Linked DNA regions of Homo sapiens. The protein of the gene in region 7 purifies or fractionates together with the protein of the main gene of each other region. This does not show direct contact. Each region holds a gene or a part of one and is shown on either strand. Other genes may lie near its edges.

Region 1 (3,500 bases), on a different chromosome or scaffold from region 7:
TCTTCCTCAGGCTAGATTCCTGTTAGATTCCAAAGAAAATTGTGCTGGAACTCAGAATTTTCCTGGCGGCTCTGCATCTCCTTGCTATGCATAGTATTTCTCATATGATTTGAAGAAAGCACTGTGGTTGTACGTTTCTTGAGTGCCTTATCAGAATTATCCTTCCAAAAAGCTCAAGAAAGACAAGCAGAAAATCCCCCAGAGAATGTCTAAGTGACAGTGCTCCATCTGAATATCCTTACAAATTGCTACAATGCAGGTTTACCTGGGGTGCAAGCACAGCAAACACGTGCTTGTAGTCCATTTGATTTTTTCTCCGATACATTTAGAAAGAAGTGCTTAGGCCGAGAGCCATAAAATAAAAACATACAATAAGTCCAAGTCTTTTCTGTATATGCTGTGATTTGATAATCATATTGATAAAACATGTGTAAAGGCCTTTATTGGAAGGCATGATTCTGATCCATTTTGCATTCTTCCAATTTTCATTTTTGCTATTATACCTAATTGTTTATCTATAACCTAGAGCATTCCAGCAAAAGCGGCCCTTTTAAAGCTAGAGGGAAAAAGGCCACACTGGTTTTCTTAAAGTAACTTCCAAGTATTTTCACTATAAATGAGAGAGAAAAGTTTCCAAATTGAAGAAGTACATAGCTCCCAGAAAGCACACTGAAAACTATGCAGAATAATTTTTGATCAGGCTGGAGGACTGTGCCAGGCTCCAAACAAGTGGTTATTCTGTTGTGACATCTGCCAGGCAATGCTTCCATTGTTCTCTGGAATTTAATTCATTTTAAATTACTCCATCCAAATGATAAAACATGAGATGTGCTATAATCCAGGGGTAAAATGCTATGATTGTTTTTAGTGTGGCCACAACTGTTTGCTGGGAGGAAATACAGCCTGTTCTAATTAAGCCCTGATTATTGTCTTCTGAAAAATAGCTAGTTCCAGAAATGTGAGTGAAATCCTGTTAAATGGAAGGGTTGGGATAAACACTCTTGGCCACTCTGGTATGACTTTAAAGTTGGGAGGGCCATATGCAAAGACTTCCTACAAAGTAGAGCAACAACCTTTGGAAAAGAAACTATTTTTGGAACTAAAAGCAGCTTGGGATACTGGTTTACTATAAGGTATAGTTTAATATGTGTATCAGTATAGTCAACACATCATTTTACTGTTCAAAGACTACCATGCAAATGCCTCCAAATCCAAAATATTCTGCCTAACAAATGCTGTCAAAGTTCCTAAATGGGAACACTGCCTTATGGAAGCATTAAAGATCAGGCACTGAATTAAAAAAACAAAAAAACCCACCACCAAGATGAATCTCAGAAGAAAACACACATGCACACATATAAGAATTCATATCTCTTGTATGCCAAATATTTAATATAAATCTTTGAAACAAGTTCAGATGAAATAAAAATCAAAGTTTGCAAAAACGTGAAGATTAACTTAATTGTCAAATATTCCTCATTGCCCCAAATCAGTATTTTTTTTATTTCTATGCAAAAGTATGCCTTCAAACTGCTTAAATGATATATGATATGATACACAAACCAGTTTTCAAATAGTAAAGCCAGTCATCTTGCAATTGTAAGAAATAGGTAAAAGATTATAAGACACCTTACACACACACACACACACACACACACGTGTGCACGCCAATGACAAAAAACAATTTGGCCTCTCCTAAAATAAGAACATGAAGACCCTTAATTGCTGCCAGGAGGGAACACTGTGTCACCCCTCCCTACAATCCAGGTAGTTTCCTTTAATCCAATAGCAAATCTGGGCATATTTGAGAGGAGTGATTCTGACAGCCACGTTGAAATCCTGTGGGGAACCATTCATGTCCACCCACTGGTGCCCTGAAAAAATGCCAATAATTTTTCGCTCCCACTTCTGCTGCTGTCTCTTCCACATCCTCACATAGACCCCAGACCCGCTGGCCCCTGGCTGGGCATCGCATTGCTGGTAGAGCAAGTCATAGGTCTCGTCTTTGACGTCACAGAAGCGATACACCAAATTGCCTGGTCGGTCATTGTCATAACCAGAGAAGTGAATTCTGCCCCCTGGCAGCTGCTTAGCAGGAGGGCTCACCCCAATCTTCATAAATTTTCTCTTGTGGGGCTTTTTGAGTTCCAGGAGGGCATAATCATAATCCATGCCGATGTCATTGGCATTGCCCTTGATCCAACCCTTGGGCACATGGGTGCGTTTCACCCGGATCCACTGAAATTTCATCTGCTCGGGCATGGCTGAAGTGGAGTCGTTGGCCCCTCGACCACCATCTTTAAACTTGGGCTTTAGGAAGCCCACTCGAAGCTTCTGGGTTCCTTTCACATAGGTTTTTCCATCGTGTATGCAGTGGGCAGCTGTGAGGACATGCTTCTCTGCCACCAGGGTGCCGGTGCAGCCCGTGGATAACTTCACTGATGTTGAGAAAGGGTAGTTGAGCAGGAAGTCCTTCCCAAAAATGCTGAACCTGCTGTCATAGCCATAAATCTGCCGCTTCCTTCGAGACTTTCCTGAAGACCCTGAGTCTCGGTGTTGGGCCCCATCTCCACTACTGCTGAGGATGTAGATGCCCACCTGCGTCTCTGTGCGGCTGCCATTGGCATAGAGCGTTTCATAAGACAGATATTGCTTGGCCTCTTCGTAAGTGGGCAGTGGAGTTCCCTTATGACACTGGGGTCCACATGAAGAAGATACTTCTAATTTGGCTTCGGCTCCAAAGTCTGGCTTGGCTAAATTGAGGGTAGACTGGGGCAAGACGACAGGGAGGCGGTATGCAGGCCAAGTGGGTTTCCAGGGGGCACTGTAAGGGCTCACTTGCCCAACAGCACAGAGCAGAAAGAAGAGAAGGAAGAGGAGCCCTGGAATCCCTGCCATGCCGAGCACTGTTCTGTAGAAACAAAGACAAGCAGGTCAGGAGGGCAAGGGCTGAACGTTCATTTACTGCAGACAGCAAAGCTCAGCAGCAGGCCTGTCATTGTTTCTGAGTCTTTGAACACTCCTCAGGAATCAGGGTGTGGAGAGGAATCCTTAGATAACGGTCTCACTTTCAACGCAAAGGCTCAACCTTAGGAAAGTTCCTGTGGCTGGGTGCCTGAAGTGAAATTGGGTGTTCCTTCCTTTCTATGTTTAAGATGTCCCTAATGATGGTAGACTGCAGAGTAGCAGGCATAAAGTCATTAGTCCCCTGGCTAACTGACTGACCAGCCCCAATTTCCACGTAATTTTGAGCCCTCTTTGTGCTTGATTCTAAACCTCCTCCTCTTCTACCTTCATGATGTCCCCGCCTTTCCCTCCTCCTTCTCTCATTCTCATTGTAACATGTACTTGGAAAATTTTCAGAGCAACTTGGTCACTCAGAGGGTCAATTTAAATTACATGGCTTACTGAGTGACTGAGACATCAAAGAAGGACAGCTCCACAGTGTCACAATTACCACCACTCCTGTGGTTTTTAAATGATGGTGCACTCGAGAAAGG
Region 2 (2,178 bases), on a different chromosome or scaffold from region 7:
ACAGTGACAGACCTCGCCTGGCGTTGCTGTCCCGGCTTCACTGGGAAACGCTGCCCTGAGCACCTCACGGACCATGGGGCTGCCTCACCCCAGCTGGAGCCTGAGCCTCAGATTCCTTCAGGGCAGCTGGACCCAGGCCCCAGGCCCCCTTCCTACAGCAGAGCAGCCCCCAGCCCTCATGGTGAGTCTGCCCAAGGAGACCCTCCAAGGTGATTGGGTTTCTTGGGCTCAGTGGCAGGGGCAGGGAGGGGACTGATCCCAGGCTGGCTGAGCTCCGGCATGGATGGGGAGGGGCAAGCCCCAAGCCCCACTTTCACCCCACCATAAAGCTGAGGGAGTTATGCCCAGTGAGAAGGTAGGCTTAGAACAGAAAGTCTGGGCTGGGCGCGGTGGCTCATGCCTGTAATCCCAGCACTTTGGGAGGCCGAGGCGGGTGGATCACGAGGTTAGGAGATCGAGACCATCCTGGCTAACATCGTGAAACCCCATCTCTACTAAAGATAGAAAAAAAATAGCCGGGCGTGGTGGTGGGTGCCTGTAGTCCCAGCTGCTTGGGAGGCTGAGGCAGGAGAATGGCATGAACCCGGAAGGCGGAGCTTGCAGTGAGCCAAGAGCACACCACTGCACTCCAGCCTGGGCGACTGAGCAAGACTCTGTCTCAAAAAAAAAAAAAAAGAACAGAAAGTCTCTTGGGTGGCCTGGCATTGTGACAAGCTGAGAGGGTGAGGCCAGTGATGCCCCTGGGGCTCTCTTCTCTTTCCCAGGAAGGAAAGGCCCAGGGCTGTTTGGTGAGCGGCTGGAACGCCTGGAGGGTGATGTCCAGCGCCTGGCTCAAACATATGGTACCCTCAGTGGCCTGGTGGCTAGCCACGAGGATCCCAACAGGATGACTGGTGGCCCCAGGGCTCCTGCTGTCCCTGTGGGCTTTGGGGTCATCCCTGAGGGGCTTGTGGGCCCAGGAGACAGAGCCAGAGGGCCACTAACACCTCCCTTAGACGAGATCCTAAGCAAGGTGACAGAGGTGAGCAACACTCTTCAGACCAAGGTGCAGCTTCTAGACAAGGTGCATGGGCTGGCACTTGGCCATGAGGCCCACCTGCAGCGGCTGCGGGAAGCCCCACCATCCCCGCTCACCTCCCTGGCCCTGCTGGAGGAGTACGTGGACCGACGGCTGCACCGACTCTGGGGGAGCCTGCTGGATGGCTTTGAGCAGAAGCTGCAAGGCGTCCAGAGTGAGTGTGACCTGCGGGTGCAGGAGGTACGGCGGCAATGTGAGGAGGGTCAGGCCGCCAGCCGGAGGCTGCACCAGAGCCTTGATGGCCGGGAGCTGGCCCTGCGCCAGGAGCTGTCACAGCTGGGCAGCCAGCTGCAGGGCCTGAGCGTGTCTGGCAGGGGCAGCTGCTGTGGGCAACTAGCCTTGATCAATGCCCGTATGGATGGCCTTGAGAGGGCCCTGCAGGCAGTCACCGAGACCCAAAGGGGCCCCGGTGCCCCGGCCGGGGATGAGCTTACGAGGCTCTCTGCTGCCATGCTCGAGGGAGGTGTGGACGGGCTGCTTGAGGGTCTGGAGACGCTCAATGGGACAGAGGGTGGAGCAAGGGGATGCTGTCTGAGGTTGGACATGGGGGGGTGGGGAGTGGGCGGCTTTGGGACCATGCTGGAAGAGCGCGTGCAGAGCCTCGAGGAGCGCCTAGCAACATTGGCTGGGGAGCTAAGCCATGACAGCGCCTCTCCGGGCAGGTCAGCTCGGCCCCTTGTACAGACAGAGCTGGCTGTGCTAGAGCAACGGTTGGTCTCACTGGAGACTTCGTGCACCCCGAGCACCACCTCAGCCATCCTGGACAGCCTCGTGGCAGAGGTGAAGGCCTGGCAGAGCCGGAGCGAGGCCCTCCTACGCCAGGTGGCCAGCCACGCAGCACTGCTCCAGCAGCTCAATGGCACTGTGGCCGAGGTCCAGGGACAGCTGGCAGAAGGGACGGGCAGCTCACTTCAAGGCGAGATCACTCTGCTCAAGGTCAATCTGAACTCAGTGAGCAAGTCGCTCACAGGCCTCAGTGACTCTGTCAGCCAGTACTCTGATGCCTTCTTGGCTGCCAACACGTCCCTGGATGAGCGGGAACGCAAGGTGGAAGCCGAAGTCCAGGCCATCCAGGAGCAGGTCAGCAGCCAAGGCTCCAG
Region 3 (3,441 bases), on a different chromosome or scaffold from region 7:
TGTGGATGTGTGTTTGTATGTGCATACGTATGAGATAGGCACATGCATCTTCTGTATGGACAAAGGTGGGGTACCTACAGGAGAGCAAAGGTTAATTTTGTGCTTTTAGTAAAAACATTTAAATACAAAGTTCTTTATTGGGTGGAATTATATTTGATGCAAATATTTGATCACTTAAAACTTTTAAAACTTCTAGGTAATTTGCCACGCTTTTTGACTGCTCACCAATACCCTGTAAAAATACGTAATTCTTCCTGTTTGTGTAATAAGATATTCATATTTGTAGTTGCATTAATAATAGTTATTTCTTAGTCCATCAGATGTTCCCGTGTGCCTCTTTTATGCCAAATTGATTGTCATATTTCATGTTGGGACCAAGTAGTTTGCCCATGGCAAACCTAAATTTATGACCTGCTGAGGCCTCTCAGAAAACTGAGCATACTAGCAAGACAGCTCTTCTTGAAAAAAAAAATATGTATACACAAATATATACGTATATCTATATATACGTATGTATATACACACATGTATATTCTTCCTTGATTGTGTAGCTGTCCAAAATAATAACATATATAGAGGGAGCTGTATTCCTTTATACAAATCTGATGGCTCCTGCAGCACTTTTTCCTTCTGAAAATATTTACATTTTGCTAACCTAGTTTGTTACTTTAAAAATCAGTTTTGATGAAAGGAGGGAAAAGCAGATGGACTTGAAAAAGATCCAAGCTCCTATTAGAAAAGGTATGAAAATCTTTATAGTAAAATTTTTTATAAACTAAAGTTGTACCTTTTAATATGTAGTAAACTCTCATTTATTTGGGGTTCGCTCTTGGATCTCATCCATCCATTGTGTTCTCTTTAATGCTGCCTGCCTTTTGAGGCATTCACTGCCCTAGACAATGCCACCAGAGATAGTGGGGGAAATGCCAGATGAAACCAACTCTTGCTCTCACTAGTTGTCAGCTTCTCTGGATAAGTGACCACAGAAGCAGGAGTCCTCCTGCTTGGGCATCATTGGGCCAGTTCCTTCTCTTTAAATCAGATTTGTAATGGCTCCCAAATTCCATCACATCACATTTAAATTGCAGACAGTGTTTTGCACATCATGTATCTGTTTTGTCCCATAATATGCTTTTTACTCCCTGATCCCAGTTTCTGCTGTTGACTCTTCCATTCAGTTTTATTTATTGTGTGTTCTCACAGTGACACCATTTGTCCTTTTCTGCAACAACCTTTCCAGCTACTTTTGCCAAATTCTATTTGTCTTCTCCTTCAAAACATTCTCCTTTGCAGTTCCTCTTCATCTGTGTAGCTGCTCTTTTGTCTCTTAACTTACCATTCCTATAGTACTTTATGCATCTCTGCTTAGTTCTATTAGTTTTTTGGCCTTGCTCTTCTCCTTGATTTTAAAATTCCTTCTATAGCTAGAGCTTTTCTTTCTTTCATTCTCTCTTCCTGCAGTGTTTTGCATACATCAGAAGCTAGGTACATAAGTTAAATGATTGAGAGTTGGCTGTATTTAGATTTATCACTTTTTAATAGGGTGAGCTTGAGAGTTTTCTTTCTTTCTGTTTTTTTTTTTTGTTTTTTTTTTTTTTTTTTTTTTTTTTTTTTTTGACTAATTTCACATGCTCTAAAAACCTTCAAAGGTGATTATTTTTCTCCTGGAAACTCCAGGTCCATTCTGTTTAAATCCCTAAGAATGTCAGAATTAAAATAACAGGGCTATCCCGTAATTGGAAATATTTCTTTTTTCAGGATGCTATAGTCAATTTAGTAAGTGACCACCAAATTGTTATTTGCACTAACAAAGCTCAAAACACGATAAGTTTACTCCTCCATCTCAGTAATAAAAATTAAGCTGTAATCAACCTTCTAGGTTTCTCTTGTCTTAAAATGGGTATTCAAAAATGGGGATCTGTGGTGTATGTATGGAAACACATACTCCTTAATTTACCTGTTGTTGGAAACTGGAGAAATGATTGTCGGGCAACCGTTTATTTTTTATTGTATTTTATTTGGTTGAGGGATTTTTTTATAAACAGTTTTACTTGTGTCATATTTTAAAATTACTAACTGCCATCACCTGCTGGGGTCCTTTGTTAGGTCATTTTCAGTGACTAATAGGGATAATCCAGGTAACTTTGAAGAGATGAGCAGTGAGTGACCAGGCAGTTTTTCTGCCTTTAGCTTTGACAGTTCTTAATTAAGATCATTGAAGACCAGCTTTCTCATAAATTTCTCTTTTTGAAAAAAAGAAAGCATTTGTACTAAGCTCCTCTGTAAGACAACATCTTAAATCTTAAAAGTGTTGTTATCATGACTGGTGAGAGAAGAAAACATTTTGTTTTTATTAAATGGAGCATTATTTACAAAAAGCCATTGTTGAGAATTAGATCCCACATCGTATAAATATCTATTAACCATTCTAAATAAAGAGAACTCCAGTGTTGCTATGTGCAAGATCCTCTCTTGGAGCTTTTTTGCATAGCAATTAAAGGTGTGCTATTTGTCAGTAGCCATTTTTTTGCAGTGATTTGAAGACCAAAGTTGTTTTACAGCTGTGTTACCGTTAAAGGTTTTTTTTTTTATATGTATTAAATCAATTTATCACTGTTTAAAGCTTTGAATATCTGCAATCTTTGCCAAGGTACTTTTTTATTTAAAAAAAAACATAACTTTGTAAATATTACCCTGTAATATTATATATACTTAATAAAACATTTTAAGCTATTTTGTTGGGCTATTTCTATTGCTGCTACAGCAGACCACAAGCACATTTCTGAAAAATTTAATTTATTAATGTATTTTTAAGTTGCTTATATTCTAGGTAACAATGTAAAGAATGATTTAAAATATTAATTATGAATTTTTTGAGTATAATACCCAATAAGCTTTTAATTAGAGCAGAGTTTTAATTAAAAGTTTTAAATCAGTCCAATGTGTTTCATAATTATTTTTTAATTTTCTCCATGGTGCAGTGAAAACATCACATGAGAAAGCAGGAGACCTGGGTGCTAGTCCTGGCTACACTACCAGCTAGCAGAGGACCTGGGAAAGCTACTTCCCTGGATCTCAGTGTCCGTCTCTGCCTGTAGAATGAGATAAGTCTCTTCAAGACTGAAATGTATGGTTCTCCATTTTAATTATCAGTTAGGACTATTGATTACAAGTGAAAGAAAACTTAAATCTAAGAAAAATGGGATCTATTGGCTAACATAACCTGAAAATTCAGACACACAGCTGGATCCTGGGCCTCCAAAAAGTGTCATAAGGACACAATATCTTGCCAGTTCTCAGCTTCACTGTCCTTCGTGTGGCTTTACTCTCCCAGGTTCCTGTGATGGCAAATGGCAAGCTGCAATCCCAAACCCATTTTCTTCCAGGTTCAGGGAGAGTAGAGGGGTAAAAAAGAGCGCATGTCTCTCTCTTAATAGTCCT
Region 4 (3,500 bases), on a different chromosome or scaffold from region 7:
TGAGTATCCAGTTCATACATTTCATTATTGTTAAAAGGGACACTGCTGTAGGCAATATTTTTATTTACTTATGTACTAAGCATAGTAAAAAACCAAAGGTATGATTTCTACAAGGGCAGGGCTCATGTCTACCTCGATTACCACTCTTAGCCTTAGTACCAGTATAATGACTGGCATTAACAAATATTTAAATACCTACTTAAATCACTTAAGTGACTTTAATAATTTACATGATGTATTATTAGTTTATACCTCATTCTAGATGTTTTTCTAAATGGTCTATAACTGCATTGTTCAATATGGTAGCCACTGGCTACAAGTGGTTATCGAGCACTTGAAATATGGGTAGACTGGACTGAGATATGCTGTGAGTATAAAATATACATTGAATTTCAAAGACTTAGTAATAAAGTAAGTCTCATTAATTTTTATATTGGTTACATGTTGAAATGATAATATTCAGGATATACTGAGTTAAGTAAAACATATTACTAAAATTAATGTCACCTATTTCTCTTTACTTTTTAATGTTGCTATCAGAAAATTTTAAATTACGCATGTAGCTCATACGTAGTTTCTATTGGACAGCACTGGTCTAGAACTATGATAGATTCACTGCCAAAAGGAAGTTATGCAAAGAAAGCTGAGAGTAATTTTCTGTTTGAATTATTTGACCTGGCACCTGTCAGCTCTGATAATCCCTAGCTGTCAGTCATCTGAAGCTATATGAACAGAACATGCAGAAATCATCCTCACATGTGTGATTACCTACTAGAGAAGGTGATTACCATGACTCTAGACTCTGAGGATCAGTAGGGGGACCCTGGCTGTTGTGGAGAAGTTTGCTTCCAGCTGGCTCAGTGACATTTCTCTCAGACTGCCATGGCAGTGCTTTTGGCCACTGAACTTTAGAACTGCAGCAAATGCCGGAACCCTCATTCAGGGAATTCCTTTTGTTCTGAAAATCTTACTGATCACTTGAAATGTCTTCATGCATGCCTTTCCAAGACTCTTGGGTCCCTATACTCATTTTGCTCTACTTTGATGTGTCAATCCATCTTTGGATTACTTGCCTTCTTTCTGTCCTAGCCATATATTCACCCTGAACTCAGTCTAGGATACTATTGACATGGACTATAACACCTTCCATTAGTCCTACTCTCTCACCCTTTTCCTCACCACGCAGAGTATGTCTGTGTACACACACACACACACACACACACACACGCTTGGAATAGAAGATCAAACGCATTTCTAAGGATGTGAGCCTTTGACCTCTTGCTTAAAAATGTTGCTATGATGTCACCCACGGATTTCATCACCAAGTCTTTGGACTGGAAGTGAGGATTGGAGGTGCCCCTTAGCGAGTAGATTTTAATCCATGTCTCTGACTCTAGGCACAGTCATATTTCAACCACAGGAATGAAAAACTGATGAACAAAAATAGTACTCTGACTTACTGCTCATGATGTTTGATTCATAAAACTTGGGGTCATCACGTTTCACCTCATCAGGATTTTCACAAAACTTGTTGATGTTGTCCTCAAGGTACCAGCTTTTGTTCTCATCAAACACAGCAAACACAGCCTGCTGTTCGATGTCTGCTGCCCTCTGGAGGACAAAACAGTATAGTACTGGTACAAGAACAGACGCATAGACCAATGGAACAGAATAGAGAACTCAGAAATAAGGCTGCGCACCTACAACTATCTGATCTGTGACAAAAGCAAGCAATAGGGAAAGGATTCTCTATTCCATAAATGGTTCTGGGAAAACTGGCTAGCCGTAGGCAGAAAATTGAAACTGGACCCCTTTCTTACATCATATACAAAAATTAACTCAAGATGGATTAAAGACTTAAATGTAGGCCTGGCGCGGTGGCTCACGCCTGTAATACCAGCACTTTGGGAGGCCAAGGCGGGTGGATCACCTGAGGTCAGGAGTTGAAGACCAGTCTGGTCAACATGGCAAAACCCGTCTCTACTAAAAAAAAAAAAAAAAAGAAAAGAAAAGAAAAGAAAAGAAAATTAGCCAGGCATCGTGGCTTATGCCTGTAATCCCAGCTACTCGGGAGGCCGAGGGGCCGAGGCAGGAGAATCACCTGAACATGGGAGGCAGAGGTTGCAGTGAGCTGAGATCGTACCACTGCACTCCAGCCTGGGCAACAGAACGAGACTCCATCTCAAAAATAACAGAAACAAACAAACAAAAAACAACAACAACACACTTAAACGTAAAACCCCAAACTACAAAAACCCTGGAAGACAACCTAGGCAATATTATTTGGGACATAGGGATGGGCAAAGCTTTCATGACGAACATGCCAAAAGCAATAGCAACAAAAGCAAAAATTGTCAAATGGGATTTAATTGAAATAAAGAGCTCCTGCACAGCAAAAGAAACTATCAAGAGAGTAAACAGACAACATTCAGAATGGGAGAAAATTTTTGCAAACTATGCATCTGGCAAAGGTCTAATATGGAGCATTTATAAGGAACTTAAATTTACAAGAAAAAAACAAACAGCCCCATTAAAAAGTAGGCCAAGGACAGGAACAGACACTTTTCAAAAGAAGACACACATGTGGCCAAAGAGCATATGAAAAAAACGCTCAACATCACTGATCATTAGAGAAATGCAAATCAAAACCACAATGAGATACCATCTCGCACCAATAAGAATGGCTATTATTAAAAAGTCAAAAACTAACAGATGTTGGCAAGGTTGTGGAGAAAAAGGAACACTTATACACTCTTGGTGGGAGTGTAAATTAGTTCAACCATTGTGGAAGATACCATGGTGAGTCCTCAAAGACCTAAAGTCAGAAATACCTTTGAACCCAGCAATTCCATTACTTGGTATGTACCCAAAGGAATATAAATCATTCTGTTATAAAGACACATGCATGCGTATGTTCATTTTCGCACTCTTCACAATAGCAAAGACATGAAATCAACCCAAATGCCCATCAATGACAGACTGGATGAAGAAAATATGGTACATATACACCATAGAATACTATGTGACCATCAAAAAGAACAAGATTATGTCCTTTGCAGGGACATGGATGGAGCTGGAGGCCATTATTCTAAGCAAGTTAACGCAAGAACAGAAAACCACATACTGCATGTTTTCACTTACAAGTGAAAGCTAAATTATGAGAACACATGGACACATAGAAGGGAACAATACATACTGGGGCCTATCAGAGGATGGAGGGTGGAAAGAGGGAGAGGATCAGAAAAAATAACTAATGGATACTAGGCTTAATACCTGGGTGATGAAGTAGTAAGTACAACAGACCTCCATGACACATGTTTACCTATGTAACAAACCTGCACATCCTGCACATAAGTACCCCTGAACTTAAGAGTAAAAAAAAAAGAAAAAAAAGTGCTGTATTCAGTCATTAACATTGCAGCAAATTATCTACACCACTGAGTTCTCAGAAACCAAAGTGACATAGTTCTTGGAACTACTGAAGCCATATAATTCAGGCA
Region 5 (3,233 bases), on a different chromosome or scaffold from region 7:
GTTGGGAACCAGGTACCAAGTGCCTTACGGCCCCTGCAGGTATGTCCTGAGCCCAACCAGGATTGTTTGGAAGATTTTAAGCCGAGGGTGAGAGGTAGGATGGATTCAGATTTGGGGACCTGAGTGGGGAACCTGATCAGATTTGCTTTTTGGAAAGTGACTGTGACAGATACGTGAGCCATGGGCAAGTCTTCAACCTGAGCCTCAGTTTCCTCATTTCTCAAGCAGGAACAATAGATGTGCGTGAAGACTGGAAGCGATAATGTATGTGAAAAGTGGTATATGTCAACTATTATTACATGACTTTGAGTCACGAATGAGCTAACATGCTTACGTTCTCAAGAAGAGATCAGTTTCGTCATCTGCTTGGTATTGTTTCTTGATTTATACAGCTGTTTCCTCAAGCATTTTTCTTTAAATGGGAGCAGCTATTACTATTTTTTGTCTGTTTCAGCTTCAACTCTGTTACAAATTGGAAGGAACGAGTTGTTGAACATTGATCGTAGAAAAGGAAAAGAAAGTTTTTATTTTTTGCCTTGTTGTGCATTCATTCTTTCAAAAGCTGTTTAGAGGAAAAAACATTTTCTATCTTCTCATAGTAGTAAGTAGCAACTCAGGTGCCTGAAGACCCCATCATATTTTACTAAAACTCTCCACTCCAAAAGAGCATCAGTTGTGTGTAGGTGAATAGAAAGCTGGTGTGTAGGCCGGGCACGGTGGCTCACACCTGTAATCCCAGCACTTTGGGAGGCCAAGGCGGGTGGATCACCTGAGGTCAGGAGTTTGAGACCAGCCTGGCCAAAATGGCGAAACCGTGTCTCTACTAAAAACACAAAAATTAGCCTGGCATGGTGGCACGCACCTGTAGTCCCTAAGCTACTGCAGAGGCTGAGGCGGGAGAGTCGCTTGAACCTGGGAGGCAGAGATTGCAGTGAGCCGAGATCGCGCCACCGCACTCCAGCCTGGGTGACAGAGCGAGACTCTGTCTTAAAAACAAAAACAAACAAAAAAGAAACCTGGTATGTAAGTAGCTAAATATAGAGACGTATAGGAGGCATCTTGTAATGTGTGATTATTCATTTGATTTTATTCAGTGTGCTATTAAGAAGGGCCCTTCCTTCTAAAGAAAATTAGAACATTTTCAAAGCTTGCGTCTGAATCCTGTCTCACTACTCAGTAATGGAGTGACCCAGGAAACCGCATCACCTCCCCAAGCCCCAGTCCCTGTGAAATGGGGAGTGTAGTAAGACCTGCTTCCTAGGGCTGTTGGGAGGATCAGGTGAGACAATCTGATTGAAGGACTTGGACCAGTGCCTGATAAATAATAAGCACTTGGTAAGTTATTATTAGGGCTGGGAGAGCAATAACTTCAGCTGCGAAAGCTAATACTAGTCTATCCTGATGACGGCATCAGATACTTATTTTCAAGTTTCTTCTGAAGACAAATTTTAATTGACACTTGAAAACCAGGAAGAGCATGAAAAAGAGGACTCAGTGTAGCCTCTAAAGGCTGTTGAGCCTGAAGAGGTGTTGGAATGCCGTGCCCGCCTTGTGGTGCAGGCTTCAGCAGTTTAGGCCCAGAGGACTGTGGGTCCCACCTGCCTGACAGCAGGGCACACAGGTGCTGAGCAGTTGGCCATTACTGGGCTGTGAAAACAGCATGAATGGGGAATGGAGACTGTGGGCAAAGCAGTACAGTCCACTTGTTCGCAGGTGGGAAAGTCAAACTCTGTCTTTATTCTTTTTTTTTTTTCTTTTTGAGATGAGTCTCGCTCTGTCGCCCAGGCTGGAGTGCAGTGGCGCGATCTCGGCTCACTGCAAGCTCCGCTTCCTGGGTTCACGCCATTCTCCTGCCTCAGCCTCCCGAGTAGCTGGGACTACAGGCGCCCGCCACCGCGCCCGGCTAATTTTTTTTTTGTATTTTTAGTAGAGACGGGGTTTCACCGTGTTAGCCAGGATGGTCTCGATCTCCTGACCTTGTGATCCGTCCGCCTCGGCCTCCCAAAGTGCTGGGATTACAGGCGTGAGCCACCGCGCCCGGCTGTCTTTATTCTTTTACCATTTTATTTGGGATAAGTAGCAGCACTGCCTGGGAAGACCCTTGGGAGGGAGAAGGAATCTGTTGGATGGAAATCTTACCTTTGAGCATCAGTTATATTTAATGCCTAGTTTCAGCCCTTTTCATATTAGACTTTCCAACAGCAAGTCAAGGAAAGTCAAGGAGCGAAAGGAAGATGGGCTCAGAGGAAAGGTTTTTTTTTTTTTTTTTTTTTTGAGATGGAGTCTTGCTCTGTCACCGAGGCTGGAGTGCAGTGGTGCGATCTTGGCTCACTGCAATCTCTGCCTCCTGGGCTCAAGCGATTCTCCTGCCTCAGCCTCCTGAGTAGCTGGGATTACAGGCATGTGCCACTACACCCGGCTAATTTTCTTATTTTTAGTAGAGATGGGGTTTTGCCACGTTGGCCAGGCTGGTCTCGAACTCCTGACCTCAAGTCATCTGCCTGCCTCGGCCTCCCAAAGTGCTGGGATTACAGGCATGAGCCACTGCGCCCGGCTGGAAAGGTTCTTTTAAGAGTTCCACAAAGTGGCCAAAAGTTTATTCTTGCATTTTATCATGCGTATGCCTTGGAGTTATGTTTTTGGAATATGACTTAAGAAAACAAACTTTCCAGGTAACACGTAGCCGGTTCCCATCTTTCTAGCATCTCTGCCTTTGGCTGATGTGACGCCATACGTTCCTGACAGTTAATGTTGGCTCTGTAGGGATCTGATGCCAAGTACAGTCATAGCTCAGCCATGACACAGGGCCTTCCAGATAGGCCAGATTCAGTGCCCTTCCCAACAGATGCCTCTCCATCCCCCACACCTCCCGACTCCACCAAAATGAAGTGGAAGCACGTCTTGAGTTGCCCATTTCTTCTGTGTCTGGTCAGGCACACGTCAAGAATGTTGGCTGGTGATGGGCTCAAGGCAGGCACAGCCCGCTTCACTGTGCATGTGTGCAGGCTTGATTGACACTGGCAAAATCTGCAAGGATATTTCTAGACATTCCAAGTGATTGGTTCCTCTGAGGAAATGAAACATTAAAAAAAAAAAAAAAAAAAAATATATATATATATATATATATACACATGTATATTTAATTATTTTTTTAAAGCCACAATTGAAAAAATTCTTTGCCACTGGGTAGAATTAAATCTGACAGGAAACCCTAGGAGTTTTTATTAGTACCA
Region 6 (3,500 bases), on a different chromosome or scaffold from region 7:
TGTGTCAGTAGTGCAAGGCCCCGCCTCCATCAGATACCCAGGGGGGCGGATGAAAGGGCAAACTTCGCTGGGGAACACAGGCTCCTCTGTGCACAATTCAAGCCTAGTCAATAGCAACCCGGGCATGGAATGTGCTCCGTGGGGTGTGCTGAGTGTACTCCTACACAAAAGGCATTCTCCAAAGATAACCTACCTGGGTTGAAATAAAAAATAATATTTAATAAATCCTGGTCTCCCCACGTGATGGCATTCTTGTACTTCTGGTACAGAGGGTACAACATGTCCTCCCAAGCCAGGCCTGTTGGAATCATGCTGTTCTGGAAAAAAGAAAACCATCAGAACAGCTGAAGCAAAGCAAATACATTTTGTCCACTGAGAAACAATGTAAAGGGACTAGTTTTCTTCCCTTCAGAGGAGGGAAACAAATACAGGAGGGGTCCTGCTATTCTCAGGTCACAGAACAAAGCAAAATTTGGGCTGTTGATTGTATCGCTTTTTTCAGCTGTACACACGGATACTAGATAGACCAGGGACTGAAAGTTGAACCTATGGTTTCTACTCAGAAAACCATGCCTGGAATTGAACCCCTTCCTTTCTTCTCTTCCCTCCCTCCCTCCCTCCCTTCCTTCCTGTGTTTTTGTTTTTGTTTTTGTTTTGAGACAGAGTCTTGCTCTGTCGCCCAGGCTGGCATGCAGTGGCACAATCTTGGCTTACTGCAACCTCCACCTCCCGGGTTCAAGCGATTCTCGTGCCTCAGCCTCCCAGGCAGCTGAGACTACGGGTGCACGCCATCACGCCCGGCTAACTTTTTGTATTTTTAGTAGAGATGGGGTTTCCCCCTGTTGGCGAGGCTGATATCAAACTCCTGACCTCGAGTGACCCACCTCCCTCCCAAAGTGCTGGGATTATAGGCGTGAGTCCCCACACCTAAGAGGCGAAGTCTTTCTCAACAGCAGTCTCTACTTCAGGATTCTCTACTCTACTTCACCTTTCTTAGGTGAACATCTTTCTTAGGCTTATTTCCTCACTGTGAGGTGAAGGAACAAAATACAGATAACAGAGTTCAGGTATCTTAAGGAAAAACACCTTTCCTTGTCTTAAACAATGATTTACTTTTAAAATAAAAGTAACATATTCACAGACTGAATTATTCAAACAGCACACAAAAATATAAAATAAAAAAGTAAAAATATTCTTCTTCCATATCCCATTCCCATTTTCCCCAGACGTATCCACAGTTAACAATTAATGGTCTCTTAGGTATTCTTCTGGACATGTCTTTTTCTTTCTTTCTTTCTTTTTTTAGAGACAGGGTCTCACTCTGTTGTTTAGGGTGAAGTGCAGTGGCTATAATGCAGCCTCGACCTCCTGGGCTCAAGCGATCCTCCCATCTCAGCCTCCCAAGTAGCTGAGACTACAGCCACGTGACACCATGCCCCATTAATTCTTCTGGAAATTTCTAAGGCATACAAATAATCACAGTCTCTGTCGCCAGGCTGGAGTACAGTGGCGTGATCTTGGCTCACTGCAACCTCTGCTGTTCGGGTTCACACGATTCTCCTGCCTTAGGCTCCTGAATAGCTAGGACTACAGGTGTGCGCCATCATTCCTGGCTAATTTTTGTGTTTTTAATAGAGACAGGGTTTCGCCATGTTGGTCAGGCTGGTCTCAAACTCCTGGCCTCAAGTGATCCACCTGCCTTGGTCTTCCAAAGTGCTGGGATTACAAGTGTGAGCCACCACCCCTGGCCAGGAGGATAATTTTTTTTGACTAGTTCTCTACTGATGTTCTTTTAGCTTCTTTCCACTTCTTTGCTAGGATAAAAGATGAGATCACGAACATCCTTATACAAATATCGTCACGGACTTACATAAATAATCCCTAGGGTAATTTGAAGAAATTTTACATAGTCTTTGAAGCATTGGGTATGAAGCGTTCAAACATTATGGAATTCAGAAATGCAACATAGTATTCCTGAATGGCGACTTTGCTGAAGCTTTAAATTCCATTGCCATCTGAGCTTTTCCTGAATAAACAAATATTCTATAATTTTCTAAATACTTTTCTCTGGTTCCTTTTATCCTCACCTATAGGCCACCCAATTTCCAAAATCAGCATATTGACACTCTGGTAGTGCCACTGTTGACAAGACCAACTCCCAGTCTTTAAACAAGGAATTTTAAAGCACTCGTTTACCTTGAACTGGGTACTTCTTATCCGAGTTAAATTCATTAACATGACTCCTGAATTAACTCCTGCAGAGCCATAGAAAGGATGCCTAGCAAAGCGGCTGTACCAGCCAATCTTGGGGATTTCGTGCTCAGGGGCCATGGCTGCAAGCTGGGTGGAATTAAACAGCCTCAGAAGCTTCCAGATGTCATCAACAGGTCTCAGAAAGAGGACATCGGTGTCCACGTAGAGAAGTGAGTCCACATCCTTTAAAATCACCTTTGTGTGTAAGGAGTGGGTGTAAAGGGGAGAGGAGGGAAGAAAACAAAACAAAAACAGGTCAGAAACAAAGGAAGTAGCCTGATAGGTAAATAATGCTACCAACTTTTGTTGATTCGTATTAAATTCTGGAAAGGTACCACTCTTAGCTTCCATTCCTTCCTTCTCCTTTGACTTGAGGAATGAGTGTCAATCAAGAGGTAGAGACTTAAAAGAAGATAAATCTTGGTCTGGATTAGCCCAATTCTGGGACCCTGGACTATATTTGATAAGGGTTGAACTTACAAAAAAAAGAAAACATCAGCAAATTATTGTGGCTCTCACTTCTTCCATCTTCCAATAAGGCCACTTGTTTTTCTCTCTTAGGTTTTCCTTGGAACATCCAGTGTGGCATTAGAAAACCTGAAGTGGACAATCTCTATTTATTTATTTATTTATTTATTTATTTATTTATTTATTTTTGAGATGGAGTCTCACTCTGTCGCCCAGGCTGGAGTGCAGTGGCCTGATCTTGGCTTACTGCAACCTGAAGTGGACAATCTCTAAAGCAGCTCATACCAAGCCTTGGGGGTAAATACTCTCCATCTTTGGATCCATTTCTTCTAGTGTTAATGGGGGGCCCTGCATCTTTTAAAATATATATAAATATATATAAATACAAATACACACACACACACACACACACACACACACACACAGGCTGGGAGCAGTGGCCTGTAATTCCAGCACTTTGGGAGGCCAAGGCAGGCGGATCACGAGGTCAAGAGATCGAGACCATCCTGGCCAACATGTTGAAACCCTGTCTCTACTAAAAATACAAAAATTAGCTGGGCGTGGTGGTGTGCGCCTGTAGTCCCACCTACTCAGGAGGCTGAGGCAGAAGAATCGCTTGAACCCGGGGAGGGGGCGGAGGTTCCAGTGAACCAAGATAGCACCACTACACTCTAGCCTGGCAACAGAGCAAGACTCCATTTCAAAATAAAAAATTAAAAAAATATATAGTTTGCAGATGAGGGTCTTGCTCTGTTGTCCGGGTTGCAGTGCAGTGGCAT
Region 7 (4,103 bases):
GCTGGGATTACAGGTGACTGCCACCATGCCTGGCTAATTTTCATATCTTTAGTAGAGATGGGGTTTGACGATGTTGGTCAGGCTGGTCTTGAACTCCTGACCCTAAGTGATCCGCCCGCCTTGGCCTCCCAAAGTGCTGGGATTACAGGCGTGAGCCACCGTGCCCAGCTTCAGGAGCCTTATATGTGGAAGAGGAAGACAGGTGGTGAGCATCAGAAGTGGCAGCAGGAGGACTCTACCAACAACGCTGGATTTTAATATAGAGAAGGGCTTGACCTAAGAAAAGCCCAGAAGCTAGCAAAGGCAAGAAAAGGGAGTCTCCCCTAGACCCCCAGAAAGGAATGCAGCCCCACTGAAAACTCGATTTTAGACCAGTGAGCCGGCATTATAGACTTCTGACTTAACGGAACTGTAAGATAATACATTTGTGTCACTTAAAGACACTAAGTTTGTGGTAATTTGTTACAACAGCAATAGAAAACTAATATTCCATCACACAGAAAATGTGCTCACATCAAACTCTGCAAAAGTTCCTGAGTGATCCAAGCCCCTGAACCCTAGCCCTGTCTAAGAACCTCTCAACTAGAGGCCCTGGGAATTTGGTGCCTGTCAGTGGGCTTGGCCTGCTTCTCAATCAGCCAAGCTTTTGCCAGTTTGCCTGCTGGGCGGGGCTCTGACCCCTCCTGGCCGTTGCTCCTTCCAGTCTCTCTACCTAGCAGGGATCCCTAGCACCCCCTACTCCTACTCACCTTTCAAGATGTGGCTTTCTGGCTGGCCCGGTGGTTCACACCTGTAATCCCAGCACTTTGGGAGGCTGAGGCGGCTGGATCACCTGAGGTCAGGAGTTCCAGACCAGCCTGGCCAACATGATGAAACCCCCTGTCTACCAAAAATACAAAAACTAGCCAGGCATGGTGGCCGGCGCCTGTAATCCCAGCTACTCGGGAGGAGGCTGAGGCAGGAGAATCGCTTGAATCCAGGAGGCGAAGGTTGCAGTGAGCCGAGATTGTGCCATTGCACTCCAGCCTGGGTGACAAGCGCAAAACTTATTTCTTAAAAAAAAAAGAAAGAAAAAAGAAAAAAAGAAAAAAATTGGCTATCTCTTGCCCCAAATTCACCAACTACTCCCTCCAGTCTCCTTATCCAGGACAGTCTGTATCTTTTGTGGGCTCTTTCTTCTGTGTCAAGCTCCCCCTCCCCCACACCACAAAATAACCAGCCGCACATACTACTGGCACATCTACCCTGTGGTCCCACTCACTATCTACTGAATGGATGAGTGTTTGGGGCTAAATGTTCCTCAGTGTGGTGGAAAGAAAGCAGCAGCCTGGACCTTCCAGAAAGTCCTTGGCAGTGCAGGGATGGGGGGATCTGGGCTGCCACCCCTGCCACCTGATCCTGAATGACTTCCCCTCATCTGGAGTTCCTTCCACTGCTACTTCTCAAAGGTGCTGCGCATGCTAAGAGGGAATTTGAAAGTTCGGGAGTGCGGGTAGGGGAGGATGAGAAGGGGAGTGGCTTTACTCTTTTTTTTTTGAGACGGAGTTTCTCTCTTGTTGCCCAGGCTGGAGTACAATGGCATGATCTCGGCCCACTGCAACCTCCGCTTCTCGGGTTCAAGCGACTCTCCTGTCTCAGCCTCCTGAGTAGCTGGGATTACAGGTGAATGCCACCATGCCAGGCTAATTTTTGTATTTTTAGTAGAGACGGGGTTTCATCATATTGGTCAGGCTGGTCTCGAACTCCTGACCTCAGGTGATCCGCCCGCCTCGGCTTCCCAAAGTGCTGGGATTACAGGCGTGAGACACGGCAACAATGTGAATTACAGTTACGTAGACAGGAATGTTATTGATTGTAAGCCCGAGAGGCCAGATCGGGTTGGGGATCGGGATGGCCAACTGGGTCCCTTAGTCGGTCAGCTGCCCAGCGGTCCAGGGCTGGGCGGGTGTGGGGGTTTCGGCTACGTCCACCCGACCTGGCGGCGTCGGCTGCCGGCGCAGGTGAGCACTCACCCGTAAGCGTTACGGCCCGGGGCAGCTTCTCGTCGCCGTCCAACCCCGCGCGGGGCAACAGCGCCGCATCCTCCTTCTCCAGCCCCAGCTCCTTGCAGCGGCAGCACGTGGGGGAGCCCGGGGAGCCGGCGCTTCCTTCCGCGGGGCTGGCCCGGCCCTCTGCGTCGCAGCCGCTCTCCGTCCGGGCTGCAGCCAGCGGCGAGCGGCGGCCCCACGTGCCGCCCTGGGATGGTGCGCGCAGCAGGAGCTGGTGCGCCGGGTCCGCGTGGCGGGAGAAGGCAGGGGACTCGGGCACCGGCACCTTGAGGAAGCGCGTGGAGGGCCTGGGCGATGGCGTGCTGCTGCCACCGGCCGCGCCCACGGGCTTCACGCGCACATCTACCTGCAGCTCCATGGGCGCCCAGGCGCTGGGCGCAGGCTCAGCCCCGGGCGCCTCGCCATTCCGGGGCAGCTTGACCAAGGCAGGGCCCGGTGACGGCGGCTCGGGGCAGACCCCGTAGCCCAGGCTGAGCGGCGGCACGCGCGGGGACCCGGGGCGAGGCGAAGGCGGCTTTTTCTTGCTCGAGGGCTCCAGGCCTGCGCCCGCCGCCTTCTCCACGGCCCCGGCCGGACTTGGGCTGCTTTCGGGACCTTCAGGTTGTCGCACCTTCGCGGGCACCTGCGGCTGCTCCAGCGTGGGGACCAGGCTTCCCACGGGCTCCATTGGGAGCTCTGCCCCGGCTTGGCCTCCGGGCGCAGCCTCCCAAGACTCCTCCATCCCGCGCGCCCCGCCACCCGGAGACGCTGAGGAGCGCACCTGGGCCCAGTGCAGAGGAGCTTCGCTCTCCTCCGTCCGGATTGGTCCAGCCGCGTCGCCGAAGTTGTCAGGCCACGCCCCTCCCCGAAGGACCCCGCTGTGATTGGCTGTGGCTGAGGTTCTGCTGCCCCGACCCCCTTCGGGACACAGCCCCGGCCTCCACCAGGCACTGGGAGGGAGCTGAGAACGGCAGCGGGGCCAGGCGAGGGTTGCAGGGTGGGCGGGAGCTCTCGGGAGAAAAGCAGAACACCAGCGGAGGCTTGTGGCAGGGAACCCGGAGCCCCGCCTGACCCTTCCCTCTTCTTTGTCTCTGACCTCACCCATTTTCCCCTCCAGCCCTATGCCGGGGTGTTGGTTTTGAGAGTTACAGTTTGGGCGGGGAAGGATTGGCCAAGCCTGTCTGGATCCTGGGACCTCAGAGAAATCAGAATCCAAAGGAATTGGGGCGACCTGTGGAAAAGTAGCCCAGTTGGTTGTCCTGACAATCCAGCAGGGTTTCGAAAGGACTCTCCATCATACTTGGGAGGACTCCCCCACTGAGTAACGCTAAGAGAAAAGAAACAGGGCGTGGATAAGCAATTCTTCTTTTTTTTTTTTTTTTTGAGACGGAGTCTTGCTCTGTCGCCAGGCTGGAGTGCAGTGGCCCGATCTCGGCTCACTGCAATCTCCGCCTCCCAGGTTCAAGCGATTCTCCTGCCTCAGCCTCGTGAGTAGCTGGGACTACAGGCACCCACCCCACCACGCCCGGCTAATTTTTGTATTTTTAGTAGAGACGGGGTTTCACCATGTTGGCCAGGATGGTCTCGATCTCCTGACCTCGTGATCTGCCCGCCTCGGCCTCCCAAAGTGCTGGGGTTACAGGCGTGAGCCACCGCGCCCCGCCTGGCCTCTGGTATTTTTAAGTGCCCCCAGGGTAGGGTTGGCAGATAAAATGCAGGCCACTCAGTTTAATTTGAATTTCAGTTAAACAAGGGATAGTTTTTAGCATAGTAGTCCTCCCTTATCCACTGGGATAGTTCCAAGACCTCCCAGTGAATGCCTGAAACTTTGGATAGCACCAAACCCTATATATACTGTTTTTTTCTATACAAGCGGTCTTCAAAAGGTTCATGGAAAATTCATACTATGAAAAAAACTATGCATGGATTTGAAAATTTTTTGGCACCAAAATAAATTTGTACTAACTTGTTATCACATGTCTCGACAAGATCTAGTTTGAGGCACTAAGAAGGATAAGACATCAGTTTGAAAAGAGCTCCTGTCAGAGCAACAAGGATTCTGCTAAATTTGAAGCA

Evidence for each region.
Region 1: the proteins of KLRG2 (region 7) and PRSS23 purify together in Homo sapiens (affinity purification with mass spectrometry; 2 studies listed by BioGRID and IntAct, with this or other methods). This does not show direct contact.
Region 2: the proteins of KLRG2 (region 7) and EMILIN3 purify together in Homo sapiens (affinity purification with mass spectrometry; 2 studies listed by BioGRID and IntAct, with this or other methods). This does not show direct contact.
Region 3: the proteins of KLRG2 (region 7) and CD47 purify together in Homo sapiens (affinity purification with mass spectrometry; 2 studies listed by BioGRID and IntAct, with this or other methods). This does not show direct contact.
Region 4: the proteins of KLRG2 (region 7) and F5 purify together in Homo sapiens (affinity purification with mass spectrometry; 2 studies listed by BioGRID and IntAct, with this or other methods). This does not show direct contact.
Region 5: the proteins of KLRG2 (region 7) and COLEC12 purify together in Homo sapiens (affinity purification with mass spectrometry; 2 studies listed by BioGRID and IntAct, with this or other methods). This does not show direct contact.
Region 6: the proteins of KLRG2 (region 7) and GXYLT2 purify together in Homo sapiens (affinity purification with mass spectrometry; 2 studies listed by BioGRID and IntAct, with this or other methods). This does not show direct contact.

Annotation. Positions count from the first base shown.
Region 1 is NC_000011.10:86,807,042-86,810,541, reverse strand, and holds part of PRSS23 (serine protease 23 precursor), read right to left. Parts: intron 2,912-3,500; 5' UTR 2,899-2,911; coding exon 1,747-2,898; 3' UTR 1-1,746.
Region 2 is NC_000020.11:41,361,641-41,363,818, reverse strand, and holds part of EMILIN3 (EMILIN-3 precursor), read left to right. Parts: coding exon 1-181; intron 182-764; coding exon 765-2,178.
Region 3 is NC_000003.12:108,042,591-108,046,031, reverse strand, and holds the end of CD47 (leukocyte surface antigen CD47 isoform 1 precursor), read left to right. Parts: 3' UTR 1-2,941; downstream 2,942-3,441. UniProt on the Homo sapiens protein: Adhesive protein that mediates cell-to-cell interactions. Acts as a receptor for thrombospondin THBS1 and as modulator of integrin signaling through the activation of heterotrimeric G proteins.
Region 4 is NC_000001.11:169,544,982-169,548,481, forward strand, and holds part of F5 (coagulation factor V preproprotein), read right to left. Parts: intron 1,612-3,500; coding exon 1,461-1,611; intron 1-1,460. UniProt on the Homo sapiens protein: Central regulator of hemostasis. It serves as a critical cofactor for the prothrombinase activity of factor Xa that results in the activation of prothrombin to thrombin.
Region 5 is NC_000018.10:316,237-319,469, forward strand, and holds the end of COLEC12 (collectin-12), read right to left. Parts: 3' UTR 501-3,233; downstream 1-500. UniProt on the Homo sapiens protein: Scavenger receptor that displays several functions associated with host defense. Promotes binding and phagocytosis of Gram-positive, Gram-negative bacteria and yeast.
Region 6 is NC_000003.12:72,954,046-72,957,545, reverse strand, and holds part of GXYLT2 (glucoside xylosyltransferase 2 precursor), read right to left. Parts: intron 2,449-3,500; coding exon 2,197-2,448; intron 318-2,196; coding exon 194-317; intron 1-193.
Region 7 is NC_000007.14:139,480,874-139,484,976, forward strand, and holds the start of KLRG2 (killer cell lectin-like receptor subfamily G member 2), read right to left. Parts: upstream 2,801-4,103; 5' UTR 2,770-2,800; coding exon 2,013-2,769; intron 1-2,012.